3 linked regions of the Homo sapiens genome follow. The protein of the gene in region 3 purifies or fractionates together with the protein of the main gene of each other region. This does not show direct contact. Each region holds a gene or a part of one and is shown on either strand. Other genes may lie near its edges. The genes, in order: THUMPD3, HEATR5A and PPM1B.

Region 1 (3,657 bases), on a different chromosome or scaffold from region 3:
GCTCCTACTCCTCAACACATGGCAATAGAATCCTTGGCAACCCTCTTGAGGGGGTAAGCACCCTGTACTCCAAGCCATTCCTGATGGTCAGGGGTGAATATCTGACCAAAACAATGTCCATCAGATCCTCTCTTCCAGGAATTTGGAACAAAGAGCTAAAAGCCCTAGGCAGTGTGGGTTGGTCGTTTGGAATTGGAAATACATAAATTTAGATGAGAAAGCATGTAGATGAGAAGAGACAAGAGTCCACAGGCTCTAAGGGGAGATAAAAATGGCTGCCTACATTTCTGGTGGTTTTCCAAGATGTGGTTCCTACCCTTCTTGAGAACCAACATTCAGTTTTTCTGTAGAATCCCCAAGATTTCTCTTTATCTTTCCAATAAACCCCTCTCTGGCACAATTATCACTTTTTTATCCTAAACTTGATTACTTAGGTTTTAAATATTTGCACCCAAAATAACACCCTCTCTGTATCCCTGGTTTCTACCATATGCCTGGCAGTAGATAATGCATATTTGTTAAATTAATGAAGACTAGAAGATTTTCCTTTATCAAATGGGCCCAATTTTCTATTATCGTCATTGAATTAATATGTTAGGAAGATAAAAGATTGGAAGAGAAGGAATACAGTCGTGTACTGCATGACAATCTTCCAATCAATGGTGGACCAAATATATGAATGCAGTAATTATAATACCATATTTTGCCCTATCCTTTCTATGTTTAGATACACAAATACCACTGCGTTACAACTGACTACAATATTCAGTACAATAACATGCTGTACAGGTTTGTAGCCTAGGAGCAATAGGAGATACCACATAGCCCAGGTGTGTAGTAGGCTACACCATCTAGATTTGTGTAGGTACACTCCATGAGGTTCGCACAATGATGAAATTGCGTGATGACACATTTTTCAGAATGTATCCCTGTCATTAAGTGATGCATGACTGGACTTAACTACCAGGACATACCAGGCACTGTATATAATAGGTATTTTGCATATGCTTCAGCATTTAATCCTCACTAATAATCCTTTAAGTCTCACATCAAATCCATTTTGCCATCTGGAAAACAGAAGCTTTAGAGAAAATAAACATTTTCAAGTGGTGGAAAGAAGCACCCAATAAAAGAGAGAAGGGCAAAGGAGAAGGAAAGATAGGTCGTGTACTCTGAAAAGCAAAAAATTCTAGGATGATTCCTGAGTTGCTGTGAGTATAAAGCTTAAAAATATAAGTAAAAGCTCTTTCTGTTCATTTACACGTTATACACATAAAAATCTCTGCTTTCATCTTTTTCACTGCACAGAAATGAAACAGCAAAATTTACTCTTATCTCCCAACACACATATCCTTGCTAAACAGAAATGTGGTAACCTCATTCAAGAGGCAGGTGAAAACTATTACTCTCATTTTAAAATCAAGAAAACCGGGCGCGGTGGCTTACACCTGTAATCCCAGCACTTTGGGAGGCCGAGGCGGGTGGATCACCTGAGGTCAGGTATTTGAGACCAGCCTCGCCAACATAGTGAAATGTCGTCTCTATTAAAAAAATACAAAAATTATCTGGGCGTGGTGGCAGGCACCTGTAATCCCAGCTATTCGGCTGAGACAGGAGAATCGCTTGAACCCGGGAGGCAGAGGTTACAGTGAGCTGAGATCTCGCCACTGCAGTCCAGTCTGGGCGACAGAGTGAGACTTTGTCTCAAAAAAAGAAATAAAGAAAACTGAGCCACCTATTAAGCAGTATTTTCAGATCACAAGGAGTCAATATTGGATAGAAGGGAAAGAAATAGATCATTAGCTTTCCATTCTATTCTTTATCCACTCTATTCCAACACAGTACCTCAAACACACATACACACAAATCAGTATTTTGAAGGGAACATTCAAACCAAGGTGCCACTTTAAGCTGGATGGCAAACTCATTTTCTTACCTGAGCATCCCATAGGCAAGAGTTGATCTAAGAGTTGTAGGTCCAAAATGTGTTATATTTCTTCGGTGGAGACTCTCTTCAGTCAATGCAATGCCCACAATGACTTCATTATCATGGATGTTCAAAAGAACCTATAGCAAAGTGGAACAAGACAAAATAGTTTTAGGATTGTTCAAACTGCGCTTAGTAATAAGACTTTTCTGACCTGGGCCGGTTCACCCCTCCTTAGGCAACCTGTTGGTCCCCTACTCCTGGGAGGTCACCATATTGATGCCAAACTTAGTGCAGACACCTGATTGGCATAGCGCACCACAGCCCAGAACTGTCTAAAAAGTTAAGACATTTAAAAAATACATATTAAAAAACCTCTAAGCCTTCAAAATATGTTTGTGTTATAAAAATTGGGGTGAAATCTGGTTGTAGCCAATAAACATAGTGAATTAAAAGAAAATAATAGATATTAAAATGAACGAAAAAAACTATATACTATATGATTTCATTTATATGAAGTTCAAAAATTGGCAAAACGAATTTTTGGTGGTAGCAGTCAGATTAGTGATTGCCTTGAGTGGGTACTGACTGGGAAAGGGCAAGGGGAGCCCGAGGTACTGGAAATAGTTTGTATCTCTATCTGGATGCTGTTTACACATCGTGTATATAAGTAAAAACTTACTGAAAACTTAAGATTTGTGTACTTAAGGGGTGCAAAGTGTATCTCAACAAAAAAGTTTTAAAAATTGGTAAAGTCTCAAATAAAAAGTCTTATTACACTGAGTGCAGTGGCACAGGCCCACAGTCCCAGCTACTCGGGAGGCTGAGGTGGGAGGACAGCCTGAGCCTGGGAGGTCAAGGCTTTAGTGAGCCATGATTGCACCACTGCACTCCAGTCTGGGTGATACAGCGAGACCCTGTCTCAAAAGTGAACTAAACTAAACCAAAATGTTCCCCAATCTTTCACTGAAAGACTTCCTGAGCTTAACCACAGCAGAAGCACAGCTGATACTCATACAGCACTTCCTAATGCAAAGCACTATTCTACACATTTTACATACATGGCCTCATCTCATATTCACATCCCCTAAGCTAGGTATTATTCCCTTTATAAATGAGGATACTGAGGCACAAAGACAGCTCCTCAGGAATTCCCTTTTTGAGACAGGGTCTCACTCTGTCGCCCAGGATTGAGTGCAGTGGCATGATCACAGATCACTGTGGCCTGGACTTCCTGGGCTCAAGCAATCTCTTACTTCAGCCTCCCAAGTACCTGGGACTATAGGTGTCTGTCATCATACTCAGCTAATTTTTTTTTTATTTTTTGTAGAGACAGGGTCTCCCTATGTCGCCTAGGCTGGTCTAGAACTCCTGGCCTGAAACAATCCTCCAATCTTGACCTCCCAAAGTGCTGGGATTACAGGTGTGTGTCACCACACCCAGCCTCCTCTGGGATTTAAACCAATGCAGCACGGCTCCAGAAACTCCTCTGAATCACCTTGCTAACTTTTAGACATCACTGTTCTGGTTAACCTATTCATTTTATTTTTTAAAATATTTATTTTATTTTTAGTGGAGACAGGGTCTCACTATTTTGCCCAGGCTGGTCTCAAATTCTTGGGCTCAAGCGATCTGCCTGCCAAGGCCTCCCAAAGTACTGGAATTACAGGTGTGAGCCACGTATTCATTTGCAAGGCAGTGTATGAGGAAAAAAAGGAATGGGGAATTAG
Region 2 (3,657 bases), on a different chromosome or scaffold from region 3:
ATTGCACTCTAGCCTGGGCAACAAGAGTGAAATTCTGTCTCGAATAAAGAAAAAAAAATTTTGTAAGTATTGGACACTAATTGGGTAAAACTTTTTACCTGATTAAGAAAACATATTAATAATAACATATGAATACTTTTTTTCAGTGACATTACATAAAATACTGCTATATAGGATCATAAATCCCAAAATTCAAGTGTGAACTAAAATGGATCTCAGTAGATTAAAGCACAGTATTTGGGCTAGTTCTTTAAGATGTATTTTTATCTACTATTTGAATAACTACTGAATGTGTGAGCTTCTGATATGGTAGTTTTGTTTTCTGTATTACTTAGATAATTGATTTTCTTCTTGTCAGATGCTAACATCAGAGAAGTTGGCCTTGAGGGGGCATTGTTGATCTTACTAGACAAGGAGACAGATGAGAGATTATGCCATGATATCAAAGAGACTTTAAATTATATGCTTACATCTATGGCAGTGGAAAAACTCTCCCTGTGGTTAAAGCTTTGTAAAGATGTACTTGCTGCATCAGCTGGTAAGTATTGGACATTATCAGTTAAAATAATAAAATTGAAATTTGAAACTTTACATAAAATTGTTTACCACTGAGAATTCATCAGTCTTGTCTAACTAGCTGGATTCTGACTGTCTGATTGTTGCTTTTCTTCAAATGAAGATTGTATTTCTAGTGTTTTAGAATTCTCTGTAATTTGAACAATATAAATCCAATACTTAAGCCTGCTCTTTTTCCCTTTGGCTGTCTTAGATGACTTTCCTATATAAAACAAATTAAAAAGTAAAGTTATTGTTTATGCCCTAAAAGGTGTGACTTGATGTATATTGTTCCCATCATTTCTTTTCATACATACAACAAATATTTGAGACCAGGTGTGGTGGCTTACCCCTATAATCCCAGCACTTTGGGAGGCTGAGGCAGGCAGATTGCTCAAGTCCAGGAGTTTGAGACCAGCCTGGGCAACGTGGCAAAACACCATCTCTACAAAAAAAAATTTTTTTTTTAATTAGCTGGGCCTGGTGGCTCACACCTGTAGTCCCAGCTGCTCGGGAAGCTAAGATGGGAGGATTGCTTGAGCCCGAGAGGCAGAGGTTGCAGTGAGCCAAGATCACACCACTGCACTCCAGCCTGGGCAACAGAGTGAAACCCTGTCTCTACATACATACATACATACATACATACATACATACATACATATGTTCATACATACCCACCCCACCCCTCGCACCGTATGAAATTACTTAGTCACCATAAGAGAAAGTTATACAAAGTTATGACATTTTGAGCAAGCCAGTTTCACTACATACAATAATGTTAATTTCAAGTAGTATTAGAAAACTGTTATTACCCTAATGTCTTTAGTAATACAAGATAATTGTTCATGAGAAAGTATATTCAAATCTTTAAAATTTGTATCCTTGGAGTAAGAGAGAAAATAAATGAGAGGAAGAGAGAAGAGAAAAACCAGTTATTTTCCAAGAACTGTATATAATTTATCTGATTTAAGCCTTTAACCCATTCTATGCATAGACAATTTTATTCTGTTTTATAGAAGAGAAAATAGGCTTGGAGAGGTAACCTGCCTGAAGACATAGACAGATTCAGTCCTACGCCTACACAACTTTTAAAATCCACAAGCCTTCCACTGTACTTCAGTGCTCCCAACTCAGTTGCCCAAGCCTTAGAATTTAATGTAGCTCTCATGTCTGAATTGTGTGATAGGAGAAAAGTTAACACCAAATTCCTGGAATGTTTTGTATTCTCTGCTCTGACTATCTTGATTCTTATTGGTCCCTCTTCCAATGGTTTACACTGGCTGTTTCAACTATTACGCTTTACATATTTTATTTTTCTAATTTTCTCTTCTGTTCCCCACTACTCAAGAAATTGCAAGGACTTCTTTAAAAGAAAATGTCGCCTGAGCCCAGGTGTTCGAGGCTGCAGTGAGCCATGATTGTGTAACAGAGCAAGATCTTGTCTCAAAAAAAAAAAAAAAAAGAAAATACATGTGTGCATAGACTGATTACATTTTCCTGGTGTCTCAATTATCTTTTTTAAATTTTGCATTCATACTCCCTGAGCTTGCTCAATTTTATCTTGCCATTAATTCTTCATCTTCTGAGGTTTGGCTCCATACCTTCTCAGGAAAACACCTTCCAGGCTCTGTTAACTTGACCATAACTTTATTTGTGACATGTTTGGTATTCTAACGTGCAAAAAAATATTGACATACGGGATAATATAAGAAAAGCAGTTTGGTTTGTTTCATAGCATTAGTTCCATTTTCAGTTGTTAAACAGTTTGTAAGTGTAACAGTTAATAAGTAGAGGAGATAATTCACTACTCAGTGACCAGCTATCATTACACCTTTGATACTGTAATGGTAGCAATGAGTCTATCCTAAGAAAAATATTTTCAGACAATTTCAGTAGATTCAGGAACCTCCTGAAATCCATGCAAGGCTCCAGTGTTAAAACAGCCTTCCCAATGTATCCCACCCACACCCGAGAATTTTGAGTCTCCTTAAGTACATCCATCTACTTGCAGGGGATTGATAATTATTTCAGTATCTACTATTGTGTTTGTTTGTTTTTTTAAATATTTTTTATTGTGTTTGTTTTTTACTTTGAGTATAATTTAACAGCTTGGTCATTTTGACCTGGAACAGTTCTTAACAGCATCTCCTTTAGACAGCTGTTTAGTTGTATGTAGTTATTAGACCTAATTATTTGATGTTATTAAAAAGATGATTGATCAGTAGCAATTGATAGTTGAGCAATTCTAGTCTGAATTTGAAGTCATTTTTTTGTTCCTTTTGATATATATATATATATCTTTCAGTTGATTATAATTACATATGTTCTCCTTTAATAAAAGATTTTACAGCTGTAACTTGTGTGGATACAATGCAAGAAGAAGAAGGAGATAAAGGGGATGATGCCTCAGTCCTGACCACCAGACGTGATGAAAAATCCCATCCTTTTACCAATCCCCGATGGGCTACTAGAGTCTTTGCTGCTGAATGTGTCTGTAGGATAATTAACCAATGTGAGAATGCTAACAGTGCACATTTTGACATTGCTTTAGCACAAGAAATGAAAAAAAGAGATTCAAGAAGTAAGTGACATAGTGATGAAAACACCAAATGATATGTGTAAAAATGCTGTCTGCTTATGGTTTTAATATTTAAAATATTAAAATATTTTTTTAAAATGAAACTAGCCAGACACAGTGGCTCATACCTGTAATCCTAACACTTTGGGAGGCTGAGGCAGGAGGATCACTTGAGCCCAGGAGTTTGAAACCAGCCTGGGCAACAATGAAACATTGTCTCTATTAAAAAAATTTTTTTAATTAGCAAGGCATGGTGGCATGCACCTATAGTTCCAGCTACTGGGGAGGCTGAGGCAGGAATATCACTTGAGCCCAGGAGTTTGAGCTTGCAGTGAGCCGTGTTCACATCACTTCATGTTTAAATACATTTTTAATGGTTAAGCTTCTTATATTGGCATTCACTTTAATGAGCAGGTGCAATGCATTAAGTTTATAGAAAATAATTGGTTCTTGGGAAATAGTATGAACATTTACTAGTTCTCAAAAATTATTTCCTGGTTTGTAACTTGGGCCAGTTTTTGCTT
Region 3 (3,657 bases):
ACATATGCCTATGCTTGTCTCAAAAATCTACAGGTCAGAATTGCTTCATTTAGAGTTCAAAGACAAATACATAATTTTAGACCCACTTACTATTTGATCACTGACAACCATCAATACTTCTTTACTTAACTCATCCAGAAGTAAAAAGATACAGTGTGTTAAAAATAAAAATCAGAGGAGCTAGAGGTACCATCATTAAAATCCTTTCAGAAAAAGGCTGTCCACTGACAAGAACGGCCTTTAAATCTTCTGTTTTTAAAACTGCCTCTTTCCATTCTATTAAAAAGAAATCGGTATTTAACCAAAATCTGGGCATTTCCAGAGACCCAGAGATCCTTTCTGAAAAACTTTCTGGTTATGCCCATACCTTCCACAGTACATTTTGGAGTAGGGAGATACAGTGGTTCTAATCTAGACAGAATAAATAAGTCAAACCCTTTATTTATTTCATGTAACTAAAGGTCAGTTTTACCTTGGTATCTTTTCAGTCAAATACTTACACACTCCAGACACTGGCCAGATAACTCAAATTTTAATTGAATTATATATAGATGCTGTCAAAAACCCACTTGAAACAACTGAGTATTTTAAAGATATTCAAAGGATTGCCAATTATCTATTACTCTGGACTTTTTTTCTATTACTGTATCAAGCAATGATTCATACAAAATTACAAATCTAAATAAACTTTAGTGTTCCACAGGAATTTTTCACAAGATTATGTTTTATAGAAGCCTTTGGTTTTTAATCAGAAATAATAAAAACATCTATATGAAAAGAATTTTATCTTCTACAAAAGATACTATCCAAGTCATGTATTACTTAGAGAGCCACATGTAAATCCTTTTTAGATTGTATTGCCAGATAAGAGCTGCTTTTAGAAGACAATGAGAAATATACAACCCATATTTTTATTTCAGTTTTTGTCTTCACTGCTAGGAGGCTCAGGACTAAATTTTATACAGGCTAGGCATCTAGTACATCTTCCAATATTTCACATGGCTCTTGATCTTTTAGTAATATCTAGTACAGAATTCTACTATATACATATTTTATCAAGCTGCTTCATAATCAGGCATAAGATGGTTACTGCCAATGTCAAGAAAAAGTCACTCTGTGTAAATGCTTTTGCTACAGCAACAAGCTATGAAGTACTTAAATGACAACAAATGCCTCAAATTTATCAAGCTTAATTTTCAAATTAGAAGGCTGGGACAAACAAGGATGGCAAAGAAAACAATGGTTTCATTTCTGGTAAAGTACTTCAAAATATACAGCTTCTGTGAAAATATTAAAAGTTTTAAAATTTTAAGTTAGCTTAACTTTACCTACCGTAACTTTTCAAAATTAACATGTTATTTTAATGACAAAAAAGTTTACATACCTTGTGTAAACAAGTGTCCACTACCCAATTGCACACATTTTCCAGGTCATCAGATACCTCAAGCCTAGATTTAACATATTCACAGAGCTCCTCATTACTCATAACATCCCAGATCCCATCACAAGCCAAGATGATAAATTCATCCTCTTCTGCTCTTAAAATTTCATAAACCTCAGGCTCTGGAGAAACAAGTTGTTCTGTTGGGCCCTTGCCATCAACACACTTGTAATCATAGTCCCCCAGAGCACGAGATACTGCTAATGAACCATTAACACGTTGTATCATCACGCTGCCTCCTGCATTTTGGATTCGCTCCTTTTCCCTTGGATTGCAAGGTTTGTGATCCTGGGTAGAAAAGCAGACTTGTCCATTCCTATACAGAACAGCACGTGAATCACCACAGTTGATAAAGTAGATATGCTTAGGTGAAATCATAACTCCCACTGCAGTTGAACCACTCCTGTCCATCCCGTTTCTGAGGTCTGAAAAGTTACGCATGTATTCATCAATTTTCAAAAATCCAGTTCTGATACCATTCTTAACATTTTCCACTGAAAGCTCAAGAGCAGATCCTGATTTTCCAGCTGCCCTAAAGTCTTCGTTAGTAGTGATGTGTTCTAATAAATGTGTTGAGCAGTAATTTGCCACTCGGGATCCAGCATGACCATCATAAACTGCAAAAAATGACCAGTCTTCCAAGCCGTGAGGAATACCTACAACAGCTGTGTGTGCATCTTCCATTTCCACTCTCCATCCTTGCATGCTGCTCAGGCCATAACGTAAACCATTCCCAGCACCATGAGCATTATGTTTTTCAGTTTTGGGTTTATCCAAAAATGCACCCATGTTTAGCAATAAATCTGAAATAAAAAATGCAGGTGTTAAATGTTTAAATTTGACAGAAAATGTATGTACAATATTCCCTCTATAGTCTAGTAACTCCTACCTCAAGTATTTTTTTTAGTATTATCCTAATTTACGGGAGCAACAACAAAAGCCCAAGAAATTTCCTCCCCTACATCCTACAGAACAGTGGTTTCTCAGCCCTAGCGCGTAAGAATAATCAGACCAATTAAATCAGAATCCCTAGGGATGGGACACAGATATCATCTTTTAAAAGCCTCTCTGGTGACTTGTATGTGCAGCCACGTTGAGACCACTGTTCTAGGAGAAAGGAAAAAACAAGAAATAAAACTTCATTAATAATTTCATTCTGATTTAATTTACAAGGTGAGTCTAGGGTTCGACATGTAAGTTTACAGAAGACTGGACAATGAGAATATTCAAAACAGTGAGTCATCTTGTTCAATAAATCAAGGTAGGAAGGTATACTAATATACTTTAGAAGACTTTCAAAAGCAAGTATTGAAATCAAGATTTCTCCTCCCAGTGAACCTAAAGACAACCCCAAAATTCAATTAAAACATAAAAATCTCCATTCTACACACATTTGGTTTTATCACTTTTACTATATATCTATAAAACTGAAAACCTTATCATTACTTTGATTCTGTTAAAAACATACCTTTAACATGGTGCTAAAAAATGGACTTCACTTTGCTGAACTTAAAATCCATGAAGTAGCTACCCAGTGTTGACTGACAAAGACTTAAAATCCTTAGAATTGGAAAGTACTACTATGCATCACCCTCTCCCCGCCTACCCAACTTTACTATTTTATAGAATAAAGCTTTCCCAATTTCAAATGACTTAGATTAGACTTAGAGTAATGGTTCCCAAAAGTATGCAAAAGAATTCTCTGGTATGTTTTCTACATACAATGCTAACCCTACACTCTAACTAGGTGACCTTGGGCAAATTTCTTAGTCACCTGTACCTATACCTCATAGGGCTGCTGTGAAGAATGAGTCAATGTAAAGTGCTTAAAACAGCACTTAAAACACAATAAACACCATAAAATGTTTGCTGTTATATCTGCTCAAAATGCAGACTCCATAGCCCTATTCCCACACCTAAGGATTTTTTTCAATAGATCTTAGATGGAATCATCAAAAAAGCATGCTGGTGATTTAAAGTTTTGAGAGACACTGGTCTAGATCAATTTACCTCCATTTGGGTCTACGTATCTTTGTGAGATTTTTTCCAGGTATGATCATTATTGAACTTTACAATAAAATTACATATCGCCATTTAAAAAAATCTGATGAACCACTCGATATATATATGTAAATATTTATAAGTTACATACCAGTTTTATAATTTTCCTGGGTTATATGTGATACTGTATTAATAAATTACAAATGTATTTATAG

Evidence for each region.
Region 1: the proteins of PPM1B (region 3) and THUMPD3 purify together in Homo sapiens (co-immunoprecipitation; 3 studies listed by BioGRID and IntAct, with this or other methods). This does not show direct contact.
Region 2: the proteins of PPM1B (region 3) and HEATR5A purify together in Homo sapiens (co-immunoprecipitation; 3 studies listed by BioGRID and IntAct, with this or other methods). This does not show direct contact.

The regions. Positions count from the first base shown.
Region 1 is NC_000003.12:9,372,926-9,376,582, reverse strand, and holds part of THUMPD3 (tRNA (guanine(6)-N(2))-methyltransferase THUMP3), read right to left. Parts: intron 2,068-3,657; coding exon 1,937-2,067; intron 1-1,936. UniProt on the Homo sapiens protein: Catalytic subunit of the THUMPD3-TRM112 methyltransferase complex, that specifically mediates the S-adenosyl-L-methionine-dependent N(2)-methylation of guanosine nucleotide at position 6 (m2G6) in tRNAs.
Region 2 is NC_000014.9:31,323,044-31,326,700, reverse strand, and holds part of HEATR5A (HEAT repeat-containing protein 5A), read left to right. Parts: intron 1-358; coding exon 359-538; intron 539-2,896; coding exon 2,897-3,136; intron 3,137-3,657.
Region 3 is NC_000002.12:44,199,773-44,203,429, reverse strand, and holds part of PPM1B (protein phosphatase 1B), read right to left. Parts: intron 2,245-3,657; 5' UTR 2,231-2,244; coding exon 1,385-2,230; intron 1-1,384.